Homo sapiens: one gene and its partners. The protein of the gene in region 2 interacts with the protein of the main gene of each other region in a biochemical or structural test. Each region holds a gene or a part of one and is shown on either strand. Other genes may lie near its edges.

Region 1 (4,789 bases), on a different chromosome or scaffold from region 2:
ACCATGCTTATCCCTCTGTGGCTGTCCCCTCACTGGTACACCGGGGGCCCGCTGTGAGCCCGATGGCCAATGGGGGACCTGTTTTCCTCCACACAGGGACTCAGCCAACTCCAAAACTTGTTAAGCAACTTGCCTCACTAGCAATAAATTAGGCGGCTCGCATGGTGCCAGCAACTCAGGACCCCGTGCGATGAGACCACAAACAGCGAGACCAGTAACAGCTGGCTTGTTTTGGACAAAAACATGCTTTTTCAATGTTGTCGCCTCACACCCAGATTATTGCAGTAGTCTAAACTCTCCACCCTGGATGCATTCCGCACTCCACTGCTAGGTCAGCCCTACACTACACTAGGCTTTGAGTTGCTCCAGTTCAAGAACATCTGCGCACAGGGCACGGGGCACAGCCAGCCTCTTCAGCCCTGGGACTCTGGGCCACCAGCCTGGCTCACTCCTGCTGCCCTCCCAAAACGTTCCCCAGCCACACTGATCTATTCACCTCCAAACAAGTCTTAGGCTTTGTGTATGCTGTTCCCAGCTCTGAGGGGGATGCACGTCCAGCCCACCAGGAAATTTACAGCACCTGACCCCTCTCCCACACCCTTGGAGTTAAGTGCTGGGCTGACTCCTCTGAATGAGGCTGTCTGGGTTTAAATTCCAGCTGAATGACCTTGGGCAAGTTTTTCAACCTTAGCTCCGCTATCTGTAAAACGGGAATGAGAAGCTGGGTGTGGTGGCATCCGCCTGTAGTCCCAGCCACTTGGGAGGCTGAAGCAGGAGAATCATTGAGCCCAGGGGTCGGAGGCTGCAGTGAGCCATGATCACACCACTACACTCCAGCATGGGCGACAGAGGGAGACCCTGTCTCTTAAGAAAAAAAAAGAGAGAGAGAGGAGCAACTGCCTCCTCGTTTGACCAAATGAGGTCACAGAGGTAACACACCCGGCACACAGACTGGGTGCTCAACAGACGTGTGCTATCATCATGCCCCTTCTCGAGTCTGCAGGATCACTTCTCTCCGGGACAACTCTCTACTGCCTGACTAGGCTGAGTTTCCCGAGGGCTGTGCTCCTGTGTTGGTGAAATACGCAATCTCGAATTTCACCCAGTTCGGCTCTGGCATCTTCCCGTCCACGTAAGCCAAACTATGCTAAGCCCTAGTTGGTCACACCGAACCATATTCCTATAAAGTAAACTCTAGACCAGTCCCTCTGCACTGTGCTCCCCTATGCCCCTCTCCTGGCACTGCCCGTGTTGAGGAGGCAGCACTGGGGTCCGGCAGCAGCGGCACGGCTGCGCCCAAGCGCACTGCCAAGCCCCGCTGTCTGGTTCCTACAACGCGGGGCTGGCCGCTGCTGAACTCGATATTATTTTTCCACATGGCCTCTGCCTGAAGATGAGGAGCATCTCTCCGGAAGGTCCCGCGAGAGAGTTAGACATTGCTCCATTCCACTCCTTCCCCCATCACCACCGTCTCCCCTGCCAGAACAGGTCCTGTGTGCGGCTGTAGGAACAGAGGGGTAGACTTCTTCCTCATCACTAACCCGGTCCCTTCTCCGCCTCTGCAGATTTCGTGATCCAAAGCCCGATTCAGCTTATTCAAAAGGAGCCACTTTCATTTTTGTAGGGCTGGCTCAAAACGAGGAAAGCAAGACAGGCAGCAACGCCGCCGAAACGAGAGCGGTGCCAAACCGTTCCCTGCTCGGGGTAGACTTTTTGGAGAAACTCCGGGGCGGGCCGGCAAACACTGTTCCTTTCCAAAAGAGTTACATACAGTTTTCACTGAGCGGTCCCGTGATCAAAGCAGTGAATTTTAAAGGGGACGGAGGACGTAAATAGAAGAAAAAGCAACCGAAATGACTTCTTGTGGTCCTGAAGCCGCTCTGCGAGGCGCCAATTCCCAGTCCTGAACTTCTCTCCTTCCTTTATGCCCCCATTCCTCTTATTTGTCCTGGGGTCCCCGCGCTGTGTGGTTGCCCTCAGGGCACTCCATGGCCGGTCGCCCGGCGTCTCGAGCCCCAGAGTGCAGGCCGGGCGTACTGGCATCGTCTGGGCGCAGAACCGGCCCCGGGCTGGGCGCGAAGCTCGGTTCCGAGGCAGCCCGCGGAAATCCGCCACCCCGGGGCCCACCTGCCTGTCCCCGAGAGTTGCCCTGGCCACCCCACAACGCTTCGCTGCCCCTCAACCTGCCCACCAGTCCCGCAGAAGCAGGTCCGAGCTGGGATGGAGAGAGTGGGGAGCTGCCCAGGAGCGCGGCGGAGTACCTTGGCCGCAGGCTCCGCGCTGCAGGACGATGACCGGCGGCCGGTGCAGCCTCTCGGAGCGGCGGCTGGCGGCGCGCAGCTGGCACAGGTTGGCGTAGGTGTTGGCGTCGCTGCCGCACACCGGCTCGCTGCTGGCGCACACACAGAGGCCGGCCTGCGCGCGCCGCCGCACCGTGGCCGAGGCTGGCACCCCGAAGGGCACCACGCACTGCAGCCCCTCGCCGCACGGGCCCTCCTGCAGGCCGCACGCGGCGCCCTCGGGCGCGCCGCACACCTCGCAGCAGCCGCACGCGTCCCGGGCCCGGCCGCCCTCGCAGTGCTCCGGCTGCGGCGGGCAGCGCGCCGGCTCGCAGCGGTCTGGGCACCCGGCGGCCAAAGGCGCCGAGCGGCCGGCCCGGGACAGCTGCGCCGAGGCGGGCGCCGCCAGCAGCAGCAGCAGCAGCGGGAGAAGAGCGGCGCGCGGGATCTGCATGGCGACTCTGGCGGCGGCGGCGGTGGCGGCGGACAGGGCGAGGGCCGGAGAGCGGCGCCGGGGAGAGTGCAGGAGGGCCTCGGGGGCAGCGGGTGCGAGTGCGCGCGGCCGCGCGGCCCAGCCCATTGGCCTCGCAGCGGTGACGAGCCGCCTTGGGGACGGGCACGGCGCCCGGGATGGGGGCTGGCCGGATGGCGGGAGGGAGGGCGGGCGGCTGGACCGGGACCGCCCGCGGAGGGGGCAGGGCGGGCGCGCCCGGGCACGGCGGTGCTGGCGGGGCGCGGGCGGGGCAGCGCACAGGCCGGCCCTCTCGCGGGACTCAGTTTCCCCGTCTGCGCGCCCCACATATTCGCTTTCCGCAGGTTCTCTCGCTGAGATTCGCGTCCTTCAAACTAATGGAACTTTGCAAGGGGGCCCTGCGGCGGCTTCGCGTGGGAGCGCCGGGGAAAGTTCCTGCAAATCGCCGGACTGGGGGCCCGCCCGGGAAGCTCGGACTGGGCCGGGCAGGGACTGCAGGGGCCTCTGCGCAGACCCGGGGCGTTGCGGCACCGCGGACCCCGGTCACGCGCTGGTTCTGCCCCCGGTACCCCGCACGCGGGACCCTGACCGCGGGGCCTCTGCGGCCGGACGAAGGCAGCGTCCGCGGAGCTGGCAGAAAGCCCGCGCCCAGACCCACAGTGAAGTGATAAAAGCAGAGAGCAGAAGTAATTCGAATAGAATCCTTCACACGTCTGATTCTTTTAAAAAGTTGTTGTGGGTGGCATGCGTGTCCGTATTCGCAGAGAGCCTAGGAAGCGGCTCGGCAGCTCGTAACTGGCGAGGGTGGAGCGGTCTCAGATGGGAAAGGGGTTTTCCCCTCTTTTGATTTTTCACCAAGTGCGTGATTATTTCAAAACACTTGTTATCAAAAATTTGATTTCCCACTGGAGAATCTTTGGTGCATCCGTTGGGACAGATGCGAGTCCGAGAGTCATCAGGAGGGCTGAGGGCGACCCTGGAGGTGGGTCTGGGTGCCCAGGCAGCACCAGGCCTGTGGGCAGTAGTCCTGGGTCCACACTGAGCAGATGGGCACAGCTCGTGTCCAAGGACCTGAGAGGAGGCCCTTCGTCCAGCCCTCATCCCGAACCCTCAAACCTCCACCCCCACCCTGGGCAGAGGCACCCAGGGTTGGGTGAGCCGGCAGAGCTGACTTTGGGATAGAGTAGCATGGGAGGGGGCTGGGGGCTTGGGGATTTTAATATTCTTCTGTATTTGGGTTGTTCCCTTGTGCACACGTTATTTTTCCAATACAAATAGTTTAAAAAGTAAACTCCAAATACCTATAAGCCCCCTCAAAGCACCTTCCAAATATGAACCTTGTTAATGCCCAAGGTCCAGAGGGGTCCCCCAGAAAGGCCCAGGAGCCTGGGGCATGGGAAAGCTGTCGGGGTCCCCATGCTGACTCCCTGGACTCCAAGCGATATTCCATAAAGCCAGGGCCTCCTGGCTGCGGGAGGGAGGCCTTGACCCAAAATCCATTCGGCCCTGGATACTGGAGAGGCAGAGGCCTCTGCTGATGAGAAGCCCTGAGTTCCTGGCTAGCTGTGGTTAACCACAAAAAATGCGGGGGGTGATGATTTTCGAAGTCCATCGGCAAAGAAAGACTCCCCACTGCAGTCCTGGGGCAGATGGAATTAAAAGGACACGTGGTGGTGAATAAATTGGTGATAACTTATTTTTGTCGAATTTCCTTATTTTACAGAGGAGAAAACTGAGGGCCAGAAAGGGTGACTCCCCTGAGTGTCATGCCACAAGTTGAGTGCTGGAGCCAGGACACCTTCCAAACCGGCTGTGCCTGCCTGCAAGCCCCATCCTCCTCCATCCCCCTGAGCAGCCAGACTGCAGAGGGAATGAGCGGACCGAAAACAGTGTGGCCGCAACTTCCCCACTGCTTTGCGGGAGGTGGAGGGAGTTTCTAGGCTCTTTCCCTGTTGGGGAATTAAGTAGCTGGGGATCCCACTGAGTCTCCACCACCCTCTCACCCATTTTCCACCCCTCCCCCACCACATATACATTC
Region 2 (4,985 bases):
CAAGGTGTTGTGGGTGCCCAGAGGTGGTGACTATTTGCCAGTGCATGAAGTCAAGAAAGACCTTCCAGAGAGGGGCAGCCCAGCTGGGTCCTGAGGATGAACAAATGTTGGCCAGGCAGAAAGGAGGAAAAAAAGACACTCCAGGTAGAGAAAGACCTGTGTGACCAAGGGGCTTAAGGCCAGGAGGGTAGAGTGGGAAGTCAGGAAGAGCTGGCCACTCACTAGCTGGGTGCTCCCGGGCAAATCTGTTTCCCTGTCTGAACCTCGGTTTCCTCCTCTGTAAAATGAAGGTTAGAACAATATGCTCCACTCTCAGATTGTTTCTAGAAGCAAAATGGGCCACAGAGACAAGGGGATGTTGGAAACAGAACTTCTCCCAGGTTTACTTAGTCTTACTGCTGTGGGGTCTCCCCTGGGCAGGCTGAAGGGACAGAGCCCAGCCACAGGGCCCCAGGTACTAGGAGGGTGGCTGGCCTTCTCTGACCAGGCCAAGGGAAGTTCCTCCCAACACCTGAGGCTGCCCAAGGCTCCCTGAAGTCCACAGTCACATCCTGCCTAAGCTCTGGCCAGGGGAGCATGAGGGATCCGGGAGGGATCAGGGTTTCATAAACAGGAAGAGAGGAGGGGAGGGGAGACGCTCAGCTCTCAAAATAGACCTGCAGGCGCTTCAAAGGGGTCCAGCTCCGGAGATAGCTGGGGGAGGGGGCCTGGGATGCCCAGTCCACTCCCAGAAGGGAGGGAGGGCAAATGGAGCCCCGGTGTGCCTTAGGGTACCACGTGCACCTAGGTGCTGAGGGGATCCAGAGAGTTCTCACCCTGGATGGCTATCCACACTATTGCTGCTAAAAGCCAAATCCCAAATCCCAAATCCCGCTTTCTGCCTGAAATGAATAAAATAAACAAGCATTAAACAGCAACATTGTGCCACAAGCCCTGTTAGATACTTTAATTTATATGTACCACATTCTCTTTTCCAGGTAGCCCTGAGAAATAGGCTTTATTCTCCTTTCATTTTTCAGGAAAGAACCCGAGCCTCAGCAAGGCAAATGACTTGCCCAAGGTTACAAGGCAAATAAAAAATAGGTGCAGGATTCTGAACTCAGAATCCCTGACTCTCTTCCCTGCCTCTTTGCCACCTGGAAGGCCCAATTCTTTCTCCAGCTGCCCAAATCCTGCCTTTTGAGTCCCAGCCAAATGCCAGTTCCGCAGGGAACATGGCCTGTGCCCTAGAGCCCACCCCAACTCTTCTTCCTCGGCCATGCACGGCAATGACCATGTCTCTGGTCCACACTCAGCCCTGAACTCAGATGCCATCAGCTGGGTTCCCGGGGACGTGCTCATCTCGTCATGCTACGGAGAGAAATGTGGGCACCTGGAAGGTGGTGGTATACGTCTCTGCCCAACATGGGCCTAGCACAGAGCAGAGGTTCTATGTGCCCACAGCTGTGCTCTTGCCCCATCATAGCGCCTACCACATGGCTTTCCTGTCTCTACCCTCTGCCCAAAGATTGGAAGCTTCTCGAAGGTGGGGGATATTGACTTCATTTTAGGCCCTCCTGTGAACAACAGGGTGCACCGAATGTCTGATTAGGATAAAGTGGCCCATTGCCAGCTCATTCCACTGCACAAAGTGATGAGGTCCGGACCACAGGTTGAGCGCCCCCTGGTGTATTAAGCCCAGAAGTGGGCATTAGGGACACTGGTGGCTGGGACAACAGATGGATGAGCAGGTGCCCAGGACTGGTCCCACTTGGAATCACAGAAAGCCAGTGCTCCTCCTCTTCAGCACTCAGGGTTCTCTGGACTATGAGGAATGACCTTGAAGCCAAACAAGACTTGTCTTCATTGCCCACCAGCTATGTGATGTTGAACCTCAATTTTCTCATCTGTAAAATGGGGACAGTAACAATCTACCTCCAAGGATGTAGTTAGAACTAAATGCAAAGCACCTGGTATGATGCTAGGCATAGGTTAAGCTCTTTCTCTTCCTTAAGTGGCATTCGAGACTCCATGTCCCATCCATCTCCAGCCCTGTCTCTCTTCCTACCCCAGGATCTTCTGCTCTAGAGCAAGAGTCATAGGCTTGGGAGCAAAAGGTTACCTGCCTCGGCAAGCTCCTGCCATCTCCCAGTAAGCTCCTCCAGTTCTTGAGGTGAGAAGCTGTACTCAGCACAGGTCCCTAAATGCTGCAAGCTCCTCTGCAACCCCCAGAACCTCAGCCCTGAGATCTGAACACCGTGTTTCTTCACTGGGAACCTACAGTTCTTCATTTTGTTACTAGGCAACAAGAGGTAGCTACTTTGTGGGAGGAGATTCTGCAGACATGGGCTGAGCTAAACCAAGGGGCCCAGTCCACACTATTTACTGGCCTCTGCTGGTCCAAGGTTGCCACAGCAACCCACAGAGAAGTGGTGCGAGAATACTTCCCTCACCTGCCCTATCCTACCCAGCTCAGTCACCTCATCTTAGGAAGCTGAGTCAAGGTAAACATCAGGACTAATCCTGCATCCATCTCAAAGGTCAAGCTTATGGCAGGTCTGGTGTTCAAGCCAACCTAGGTCTGGAAGGTGGGGTCACTGGCAGGAAGCTGAGCTGAGCAATATACTAGGACATTTTCGGTGCTGGCACCGAAGCTGCCATGTGCCAGGCAGTTACTATCTCATCGTCCTTCACATTGCTCCTGTGAGACAGACACTGTTTCCCCAACTTACAGCTCAGGAAACTGAGACTCAGAAGGGAGAAGAGCTTCTGGTTAAATGGTGGGGATGGAGCCAGGACTGGAACCCGGATTTGCTCTAACACCATGCTCTGTCCCTGCCTAAGCAGCTTCCAAAGACCCTCCATAGCCAGCATCTCCTGTGACCTCACAGCCACCCTGTGAAGGGGATGTGGTCTTTTCCAATATACAGATGAGAAAGCCAAGGCCCAGAGTGTACAAGGAACCTCCCCAAGGTCACACCACTGTCACCTAGTCCTGGTGCTTCTGGCAAAACACAAAACCAGCAACAGGGGCTAGGGGGCTACAGGAAGGGGCCCAGGGGAAGCAGAGATAGCAGGGGTGAGGGAATGACCCTCACACTGGGAAGTGGAAGCCCTAAGAAATGCCATGAGTGCCACATGCCAGGCAATGGGCCTGGTTAGCCTTGAGCGGCCACCAGCACCCCCTTTCCAGCTCACGTGCCCAGATGCTCACTTCCAGGCTCTTGGCAAGCGCAGCTCTACCAAAAGGAGCAGGACAGCTGGCCTGAGCCCCTCCCATCACTCCTTAGAGCCAGCCCAAATTCCATGAGTAAATAAACTGCAGGGGCATCCTGGCCTGGGTGACAGGTAACCAGAGCCCTGACCTGGATTCTGCTCCTGACCCTTTCTGGGCCACAGTCGCCTCACCTACAAAATAGGAAGGTTGGAACAAGTGATTTCTATGCCCAGGGTTGCCACAAGGATTCGGTGGGCCCTGAGAAGGACGGCTGAGTTGGGCAAAGGGGCTAGAGGCTGGAGCCCTCAACCTCCTCCAAAGCCATGCAAACAGGATCCCCCACAGCCCCTCGCTCAGGGTGCTGGCCATGGTCCTCACCTTGGACGGCTGAAGTCCAGCTTCTTCCCCTGAGGTCTGTCCATTCTGGAAAAGAGAAAGGAGATTGGGGGAGCACTGTCAGAACTTACACGCTTGGGAGAAAGACTCTGTGGGGCACCCCCACCCTTAGGTGCTCCCAATAGCCATGGAGGCCATGGTGGTAGGGCAGGAGTCCTGGGTGGGTCCCTCCACCTCCACTTTCATGGTGTAGGCACAGGGACCAAGTATTCTGGCAATGGCGCCTCATGACTCAGGCAGAATATTCCCAGGGACCAGCATTCTGACCCTCATGCTGTCTGCCTGGCAAACACTTCATCTCTGAAGACTTAGTTCAAATGTCACCTCCTCCCAGGGAGAAGGGAAGGGTCATGTGTGGCTTCCAGCTCTACCAGATACAAACCTTGTACAAACTAGTCAACTGTGAGAGGACTCAGTTTCCCCATCTGTAACATGGGGTGGGGTAGTTACACTGACTTCCCAGAGTTGCTGCAAGGGTGGAAGGAGACAAAGTCTGGGAAAGCATGCAACCCAGAGATGGTGGCTATCCTTGCCCTGCCCCACTCTGGGACCCCTCCCCTGACCTTGCCAGGCAGAATGACTGCTGCCTCCACTTCAGCCTTCATTGTAGCACTTGTCCCACTGCAGGGACTATTTACACACAGGCCTGCCCTTCCTAATAAATGGGGAGTCCCACGAGGGCAGAGACGAGGGCTTGGGGCTAACAGCTGCTCTCTTCCAAGCCTCTGCCACATGGCAGGCACTGGGCTCAGTGCCTCGCACCTGTGGCACCACTTTTTTTTTTTTTTTTTTTTTTTTTAGACAGAGTTTTGCTCTGTTGCTGAGGCTGGAGTGCAGTAGTGCAATCGCAGCTCACTGCAACCTCCGCCTCCCAGGTTCAAGCGATTCTCCTGCCTCAGCCTCCCAAGTAGCTGGGATTACAGGCGTACGCCACCATGCCCGGCTAATTTTTGTATTTTTTTTAGTAGACACGGGGTTTCACCACGTTGGCCAGGCTGGTCTCAAACTCCTGACCTCAGGTGATCCGCCCGCCTCGGCCTCCCAAAGTGCTGGGATTACAGGTGTGAGCCACTGCGCCTGGCCCCTGTGGCACCATTTAATCCTCATGACAGCCCTGGGAGGTAGGCCCTGGCCCCATGTGGCAGAGAAGGAAACTGAGGCTCTGAGGGGACCTAGTGATGATGCCTATGGTCACACAACTGGTGAGTGGGGATTCAAAATCTGGTCCCAAATCCAGGAGGTGCTCCAAACAGGTCAGCTGAGAAACAGCCCAGAGCCCAGAGCCCCCCTCTGGTCAGTCTTGCCTTTTCCAGCCCCCAGACTTCACTCTCAGGTGGTTATTAAATATGCTGGGGTGTGTCAAACCCAGCCCATCTGTTTCCTGTGTGATGTG
Region 3 (4,542 bases), on a different chromosome or scaffold from region 2:
GGCGCCTGATTGAAGACCAAGCTTTGCCCTCTGTTTTGGTGATTCGAAGGCTCACACCAGTCTTTTGTGTGCCTGTGAGGTCCTGGGCAAGCTGTGGAGCTGTAAATATTTGCCCTTCGCCCAGAGCTGGCCAGCTGCTGAGACTGCAGCTGACAGACAGGCCAGGGGCCAGGAAGGGGGGCCAGGTCGGAAAACTTGCAGGCCTGGTGTGCACGTAAGGAAAGGGGGCTGGGAGAGGGCAGAGAGAGGCAAAGCAGACACAGGCCCTTGGGGGAGCCTCGGGCAAATATTTTCCCCTTTCTGCCACACCATCTGGAGCAGGCAACCAGAGCGGTGGCAGCAGGCCCAGGCCCCTCCCCAGGAAGGCAGAAGTACCCAGCTGTTGAAAATGTGGCTTCTGCAATCAGGGAAACCAGTGGTTCTCAACCTGGGCGACTTTGCCCCTCCAGAGGACACTTGACAATATTTGGATTGTCACGACTTGGGAGGGAGGCCAAGAATGCTGCTAAACATCCTACAATGCACAGCACAGTACCTCCCCTCCCAACTAAGAGTTATGGGGCCCAAAATGCCAATATGCCCCAAAACTGAGAACTCTGAGGTAGAATCTGAGTCCGGCTCTGCTCCCTGAGTCACTACTTAATTTTGGACAAGTTATATAACTTCTCTGAGTCTGTTCCCTCATCTCAAAGGACAACATAGGTAATGCATGTAAAGTACTTCCTATTGTTGGTGGCACTTAATAAACACTCAATAAATGGTCCTTGTGGTTGCACTGAGGAGCAACATGATAGTTTATAGAACGTGGGCTGGAAAGATGGGCACGCAAAGGTTCAACATGCAGCTTTGCACCCAAAAGCTGTGACCCAGGCATGAAACTGCCCCTTAATGAGCCTCAGTTTTTTCATCTACTAAGTGGGAAGGGTCACACCAACCTCACTTGATTAAAAAGGAAATGACTGGGAAGAATGCAGCACCCAGCCTGGAGCAAAGTAAACCCTCGCTCAAGGGGACCGCTCAGGTGGAGATGTTAAAAATAATTCTAGGTAACACTTGTTGAGCATTTATTTACTCTCTGCCAGGCACAGTACGAGGCCCTTCTACTAAACTCTCTCCCTGAAGCCTGACAAAAACCTTTCGCACTGAGGGAAACTGAGGGATCTGGGAATTAAGCCAGAAGCTCACCCAGCTGGTCAGCAAAAAGCCCAGATTTGAAAACAGTTTTAACTCCAGAGGACTCACACTTAATTATTACTTTATACTTGTTGGGGGCAGAGTGCTCCTTTAATTCTTTCTGAAATCCCTGGATGAATACCTCAGGGGTGCCTGGCTGTGTTTTTACTCTGTATACCACGTCTCTAGGGACCATAGTTTCCAACTTTAGAGAGGTTAAGCAGCTTGCTCAAGGTCAGCCAGCTAGTTGGCTGCAAAGCCCACGCTTGCATCCAGCTTTTACCCCAGAGGCCTCTCTTCTGATATCCTTCTTAACTTAATCTACACTGGCTGTGGGTTCCCTTTATTTTTTTTTCTGGAATCCTAGAGGATGCACGGATACAATTCACCCAATGTGTCCATCTCTCCTCTCCTAAGTGTCAGTCTATAGGTTTCTGACCTCTAGAGGGTAAGCAACTTGCCCGAGATCCCCTAGCTGGTCTGAGCAGCAAAGCCTTTGAACGCAGTTTTGACTCTGGAGCTGCATTCTTCATTCTTATCCTACACTTGCTTGTGAATTCTTTTTCGTCCTTCCAGAATCCCTGAAGCTGTACAGCTATACTTTACCGGTTACGTCTAGACTATAAAGGACCACAGTGTTCCACCTCAGGCAGGTTCAGCGACCTGCAAGTAGTGATACAGCTGGTAAGCAGTGGAAGAAGAGGGAGGAAGCAAGGATGTTCCCGGGAAGCTCGGGGCATCCCTGTACCCAAAGGGATGGGGCGGGGCCCTGGGTCCCCAGGGATCCTGGCTGGAGGTCGGGGCGGGCAGCAGGCGCCTACCTTGCCGCCGGGCGGCGCGGCCACGCAGCGGCTGAGCGAGTCGAGGCGCGCGCTGTATTCGGTGAATTTCTTCTGGTAGCGCAGCGCGGTCATCTGCAGCTCAAGCTGCGCCGCGGCCAGCTGGGCCACCAGCGACTTCTCGCGCTTCCCAGCGCGCAGCGCCTCCTTCTTGAGCGCCTTGTGCAGCGCGCCCAGGCGGGCCTGGAGCGCGCCGTTGTGCGCCCGCAGCGCTCGCGCGCAGCAGTGGCCGCCCGCGCGCTGCTCGCCGTGCGTCAAGGGTAGCCCGCAGCCCTCCTGGCAGCGGCCCACTGGCCGCGCGTCGCAGGCGTCGCGCATGTGCGCCTCCACGTCGCGCCGCAGCAGCACCTGGCCGCAACCCGCGTGGCGACAGCGCGCGGGCGCGAAGTCGCAGCGCTCGAGGTGCTCCGGCAGCTGCTGCAGCTTGACCACCCGGCCGCAGCCGCGCGTCGCGTACGCGCACTTGATGTCCAGCTTGAGGATAAGGCGCTTGAGCGGCAGGACGTGGTTGAGCTCTTTGGCCGACAGGCGACCGCGGCAGCGCGCCGGGCAGCTGCCCTCCTGCACCACCCAGGGCAGCACGCAGCCGGCGCAGAAGACGTGGCCGCACGGCGTGGTCAGCGGGTCCTCCAGGACCTTGTGGCACAGCGCGCACTTCAGGTCCGGGTCCACGTCGCCGTCGAAGCGGTCCAGCTCGAAGCCCATGGTGGCGGCCAGGCCCCGGGGTCGCCGCCGGGCGGCCGGGCGCCCCCTCCCTCCCCACGAGGCGGCCCAGACAGGCCGGCTACGCCGCCCGCGCGCTCGCTGGCTCTCCCCGGACTGAGCCTAATTGATCCAGACTTCCTCGGAAAATGCCCGAGGAACAGGACTCCTCCGGCCGTATTTGCGCGAGCGCGAGCGCACATACATCGTGCCTTGGATGCCTCCCGCCAGCCCCCCGAAAAAGGGAGGAGGCTGGAAGGCAGAAGCGCGTGGGAGGACACTGAGGCTCGCCAGAAGGGACGGGCCAGCCCAGGACGCCAGCCTGAATCTTCTCGGGAAACTCCTTTCTGTTCTCTTACAGTCTACGCTATAGGAGACAAAACGCCAGCCGAGAAAAGCTCGCTGAGTTTGGAGCTGAGGCTACTGCTTTCTCCCAAGGGTTCTCTTCGAGCCCCTTCCCGAACGGATCAAAACTTTTTTACTCCCTTCTCCCTCCCCCTTCCTCTAGTGGCTGATTGCAGAGGACTAAAAATATCTTGGGGCCCGCTATCTCAGCACTTACGGTCTTTATTTATTTATTTCATTCCAGGGAAAGTTACAGAGCCTGCGGGAAGCTCCGGCTGCAACTTCAGTTCTGACCAGAGGTTCTGTGAACCTTCAGGATTTAGCAGGTTTCCAGGACCGGTGGGTGAATCTACCCGGGGAAGTTTTGGTGGACAAGAGCTGCTCGCCAGCTGTCGGAGTGGGAGAGGCCAGCGTGCTGGCTCCATCCACTTCACCTAACACCTCTGAAGTGTCTGCCCTGCAGTGTGGCAAGCGTGGTGCTGAGCGCTTCTAAATCCGTCGCTTTAAAGATCATTAGTACAATGTTGTGAGAGGGTTAGCTCCATTTGAAAATTATTTTCCCGTGATTACAAAAGAAGCGATGCTGACTGCAGAAGTTAGAACTGGGAGAAGACTCATCACCCCCATGATCATGTCAACAACTGCCCTCCTTCAGTTTTGGTTTGTTTTGTGTGTACACTCTGTCATCTTTCCATTGAGGAAACTCAGGCTAGAAGAAGGATAAAAACAAAACAGAAAACAAAACAAAACAAAAGTGCCCTGTAGGGTCCTGTAGGTCAGTGTTTCTCACATTTTAATGTGGTTGCGGTTCTGATACAGTGGGTCTGGGGCGGGTTCTGAGAATCTCCATACTGAAAGCACTTCCAAGTGATGCCAATGCTGCTAGTCCATGCTGGTCCTTGGATTCCCACTTGATTGGAAAACCCTGGCGATCCATAGATCTGGACATTCATTCCCTGCAGTACAGCAAACCTGGCTGGGTAGGATTCAGCAACAGTCCTGAGCAATGGAGGAATATTTTTGGAATTCCAAACTGGGTGTAAAGTTCATAGCATCATCCATTGATTTTATTTTATTTTATTTTTACCTCCCAAGGCTATAGACATTCCTAAGAAACACGCAGTCAGCTTTTGGTGAGAGTGGAATCAAGCTATGGAATTCTCATTTGGAATCTGCTTCCAGTTTCTGAACAGTGAAGCGGGAGAGTTCTGAACAGTAAAGCAGGAGCTCTGTATTCAGCGAGACTCTGGGGCCTGGAAAGTGGGATTACAGCATCCATTTTGTCTAATTGCTTTCCTTCTTTCTTTTATGTGGCTGCTAAAGCCCCATGACCTTCACTATTTAACTGCTTCATCAGAGTGAAAGAATTGCCTTGATGTTCATAAGGATTACTTGTTTCACACTGACCTTTAAAAAGTTGTCACTCACTAGATTTTTCAGTGCATGGTTGAGGTCACTGGACAGTGTTCTTTAATCAGTTTTG
Region 4 (4,041 bases), on a different chromosome or scaffold from region 2:
GGCAGGTACCCAATATCACAGGACCACCCCCACTCAGCTGGTTCCACCACAGTATTATTAGAACTTCTTCTTCTTCTATTTTTTTTTAAGTAGAGACAGGGTCTTGCTATGTTGTCCAGACTGGTTTCAAACTCCTGGGCTCAAGCAATCCTGCCACCTTGGCTTCCCAAAGTGCTGGGACTACAGGCATGAGCCACTACACCCAGCCCTAGAACTTCTGATTTTTCAAGAGAAGGCCCAAACCCAGATTTTGAAGCAAAAATCTTTCAATTTTTATATTTTGCTTCTTTTATTTATCTATTTTTATTTTTTTCAAGATGGAGTCTCACTCTCTCACCCAGGCTGGAGTGCAGTGGTTTGATATCGGCTCACTGCAATCTTTGTCTCCCTGGTTCCAGCAGTTCTCCTGCCTCAGCCTCCCAAGTAGCTGGGATTACGGGTGGGCACCACCACACCTGGCTAATTTTATGTATTTTTTTAGTAGAGACAGGGTTTCACCATGTTGGCCAGGCTGGTCTCGACTTCCTGACCTCAAGTGATCCACCCGCCGCAGTCTCTCAAAGTGCTGGGATTACAGCCGTGAGCCATCAGGCCCAGCCCAAATTTTTGAAAAATACTAGGCAGTTCAGAGAAAACACATGTGTGGCCATTGGGGTAGGACTCTCCACTAGACATCTGGAACATCTGCCAAAGTGTGGCTGGCCTGGGAATAGAATTGGCAATTTTCCCCATGCTGAGCTGCCATTAACACATACAGCCAGTTAGCTTGCTCGAAAGCCCATGCAGGATTCCTCTATAAGTTAAACATAGAGCTACCATATGACCAAGAAATTCCACCTCTAGACGTATATCCTAAATAACTCAAAGCAGTTGTCCAGCCAAATATTTGTACACCCACATTCATAAGAGCACTATTTACAACAGATGAAAGATGGACAACCCAATGTTCACCAGTGGATGAATGCATCTACCATTCAATGGAATATTACTCGGCTATAAAAATGAATGAAGCAGTGACACAAGCTACAACATGGATAAACCTCAGAAACGTTATGTTAAGTGAAATAAGCCAGTCATAAGAGGCCACAGAGCATACGATCCCATTTATAGGAAATATCCAGAAAAAGGCCAGGCATGTGGCTCACGCCTGTAATCGCAGCACTTTGGGAGGCCAAGGCAGGCAGATCACCTGAGGTCAGGAGTTCGAGACCAGCCTGACCAACATGGTGAAACCCTGTCTTTACTAAAAATACAAAATTAGCCAGGTGTGGTGGCGCATGCCTATAATCCCAGCTACTCAGGAGGCTGAGGGAGGAGAATTGCTTGAACCTGGGAGGCGGAGGTTGCAGTGAGCCGAGATCACGCCATTGCACTCCAGCCTGGGCAACAAGAGTGAAATTCTGTCTCAAAAAAAAAAAAAAAAAGAAATATCCAGAAAAAGCAATTCCACAGAGAGAGAAAATAGATTAGTGGTTGCCAGGGACTGCAGGGAGGGAGGAATGAGGAGGGAGTGTGTAATGGGTGTGAGGTTTCCCTTTGGGGGTGATAAAAAAGTTCTGCAACTACATAGATCTAATGGCTGTACAGCATGGTGAATTACTAAATGCTGCAGAATTGTTTATTTATTACTATTAATCATTATTATTATTATTATTATTATTATTATTATTATTATTTTGAGACAGAGTCTCGCTCTGTTGCCCAGGCTGGAGTGCAGTGGTGGGATCTTGGCTCACACCAACCTCCACCTCCCGGGTTCAAGCAATTCTCCTGCCTCAGCCTTCCAAGTAGCTGGGATTACAGGCATGTGCCACCACGCCCAACTAATTTTTTTGTATTTTTAGTGGAAATGGGGTTTCACCATGTTGGCCAGGCTGGTTTCGAATTCCTGACCTCAAGTGATCCACCCATCTTGGCCTCCCAAAGTACTAGGATTACATGCATAAGCCATTGCACCTGGCCTATTCTTTATTATTTTTAATTTCATTTTTCAAGACAGGGTCTCACCCTGTTGCCCAGGCTGGAGTGCAGTGGTGTGATCATGGCTTACTGAAGCCTTGACTTCCTGGGCTCATAGGATCCTCCCACCTCAGCCTCCCGAGTAGCTGGGACTACAGGGGTGCACCACCACGCCCAGCTGATTTTTTATGCTGCCCAGGCTGGTCTCAAATGCCTTAGCACAAACAATCCTCCTGCCTTGGCCTCCCAAAGTGCTGGGATTACAGGCCTAAGCCACTGCACCCGGCCCCGAATTGTTCATTTTAAAATGGTTAAAAAGGCCGGGCGCGGTGGCTCATGCCTGTAATCCCAGCACTTTGGGAGGCCGAGATGGGCAGATCAACTGAGATTGGGAGTTTGCAACCAGCCTGACCAACATGGAGAAATTTTAGTCTCTACTAAAAATACAAAATTAGCCGGGTGTGGTGTTACATGCCTGTAATCCCAGCTACTCGGGAGGCTGAGGCAGGAGAATTGCTTGAACCCAGGAGATGGAGGTTGTGGTGAGCTGAGATAGTGCCATTGCACTCCAGCCTGGGCAACAAGAGCAAAACTCCATCTCAAAAAATAAATAAATAAATAAATAAAAATAAAATAAAATGGTTAAAAAAGTAAATTAAATTTTATGTTTCATGGATTTTAACATGACAAAGAGGTCACAGGGGAAGAGCAATTATTTTATTTTATTTTATTTTATTTTTTGAGACAGTTTCGCTCTTGTTGCCCAGGCTGGAGTGCAGTGGTGTAATCTCAGTTCACAGCAATCTCTGCCTCCTGGATTCAAGTGATTCTTCTGCCTCAGCCTCACAAGTAGCTGGGATTAGAGGCATGTGCCACCAGGCTTGGCTAATTTTTGCATTTTTTTTTTTTTTAAGTAGAAACGGGGTTTCTCCATGTTGGTTAGGCTGGTCTCGAACTCCCGACCTCAGGTGATCTGCCCACCTTGGCCTCCCAAAGTGCTGGGATTACAGGCATGAGCCAGCATGCCAGGCTCTGGAAGAGCTATTATTAATCCCATTTTATGGATGGGAAAACTGAGGCTCAGAGTGTAGGACCAAGAGATCCACAAAGCCTGAGGGCAAAGAAGCCGGAGATGAGCCCCACCCTGCCCTCCCAGGAACCAGGGTACTGACCGCTTAGCCACCCAGCCTTACCTCAGAGAGATCGTCTTGCTCAGGGGTGTTGGAACCACCACTGTCCTGTTCCTCCAGATGCACCACATCTAGGGAGGGACTGAGAGTGAGCACGAGCTGGGTTCTGGGCCTGCTCACCCCCAGTCCCCCTGCGCCCACCAGCCGGCACCTGGAAAGGGGTCACGGGTGAGGCCCAGCTGGCGGATGATGTAGCGGGGGATGTCCGTCTTCACAAGGTGGCCCTCCTTGGCGTGTCCTTCGGCCGCCTCCAGCAGGTGGTAGAACTCCTCGGGGTTGAATTCCTGAGGCAGGGCAGGAGTGGGCTCACCACAGGCTCCCAGGGTCTACCAACCCACCCCTACCCATGCCCAGCCCCCTCACCAGGCACTCCAGCAGCCTCGCAGGGCGTGAGATGATAATAAGCAACTTCTTCACCAGCTGAGTAACGAAGGCCACCTCCAAGCTCTCAGAGCGTTCATAGGCCTGTGGCAGGGGACACAGAGGGACAGGGCTCATAGGCACTCTGCCTCAGCCCGGCCCCTCTCTCAGCCCCTCAGAGTACATACTGCTGCTACTGTCCCATCTTACAGGTGAGGAGACTGAAGCCCAAGCCACACAGTAAAAATAATGAGGCTGGGCACGGTGGCTCATGCCTGTAATCCCAGCACTTTGGGAGGCTGAGGTGGGTGGATCACTTGAGGTCAAAAGTTTGAAACCAGCCTGGCCAACATGGTGAAACCCCATCTCCACTAAAAACGCAAAATGAGCCAGGCGTGGTGGCAGGTGCCTGTAATCCCAGCTACTTGGGAGGCTGAAGCAGGAGAATCCCTTGAACCTGGGAGGCAGAAGTTGCAGTGAGCCAAGATCACACCACTGCACTCCAGCCTGGGTGACACAGCGAGACTCTGTC

The links.
Region 1: the proteins of RPS6KA1 (region 2) and HTRA1 interact in a test that uses a peptide from one of them, tested with the Homo sapiens proteins (2 studies listed by BioGRID and IntAct, with this or other methods).
Region 3: the proteins of RPS6KA1 (region 2) and PDZRN3 interact in a test that uses a peptide from one of them, tested with the Homo sapiens proteins (2 studies listed by BioGRID and IntAct, with this or other methods).
Region 4: the proteins of RPS6KA1 (region 2) and MAST1 interact in a test that uses a peptide from one of them, tested with the Homo sapiens proteins (2 studies listed by BioGRID and IntAct, with this or other methods).

The regions. Positions count from the first base shown.
Region 1 is NC_000010.11:122,459,597-122,464,385, reverse strand, and holds the start of HTRA1 (serine protease HTRA1 precursor), read right to left. Parts: upstream 2,834-4,789; 5' UTR 2,734-2,833; coding exon 2,262-2,733; intron 1-2,261. UniProt on the Homo sapiens protein: Serine protease with a variety of targets, including extracellular matrix proteins such as fibronectin. HTRA1-generated fibronectin fragments further induce synovial cells to up-regulate MMP1 and MMP3 production.
Region 2 is NC_000001.11:26,535,559-26,540,543, reverse strand, and holds part of RPS6KA1 (ribosomal protein S6 kinase alpha-1), read right to left. Parts: intron 3,620-4,985; coding exon 3,575-3,619; intron 1-3,574. UniProt on the Homo sapiens protein: Serine/threonine-protein kinase that acts downstream of ERK (MAPK1/ERK2 and MAPK3/ERK1) signaling and mediates mitogenic and stress-induced activation of the transcription factors CREB1, ETV1/ER81 and NR4A1/NUR77, regulates translation through RPS6 and EIF4B phosphorylation, and mediates cellular proliferation, survival, and differentiation by modulating mTOR signaling and repressing pro-apoptotic function of BAD and DAPK1.
Region 3 is NC_000003.12:73,622,109-73,626,650, forward strand, and holds the start of PDZRN3 (E3 ubiquitin-protein ligase PDZRN3), read right to left. Parts: upstream 2,834-4,542; 5' UTR 2,718-2,833; coding exon 1,995-2,717; intron 1,858-1,994; exon of another isoform or gene 1,460-1,857; intron 1-1,459. UniProt on the Homo sapiens protein: E3 ubiquitin-protein ligase. Plays an important role in regulating the surface level of MUSK on myotubes. Mediates the ubiquitination of MUSK, promoting its endocytosis and lysosomal degradation. Might contribute to terminal myogenic differentiation.
Region 4 is NC_000019.10:12,851,507-12,855,547, reverse strand, and holds part of MAST1 (microtubule-associated serine/threonine-protein kinase 1), read right to left. Parts: intron 3,615-4,041; coding exon 3,513-3,614; intron 3,434-3,512; coding exon 3,301-3,433; intron 3,289-3,300; exon of another isoform or gene 3,221-3,288; coding exon 3,153-3,220; intron 1-3,152. UniProt on the Homo sapiens protein: Microtubule-associated protein essential for correct brain development. Appears to link the dystrophin/utrophin network with microtubule filaments via the syntrophins. Phosphorylation of DMD or UTRN may modulate their affinities for associated proteins.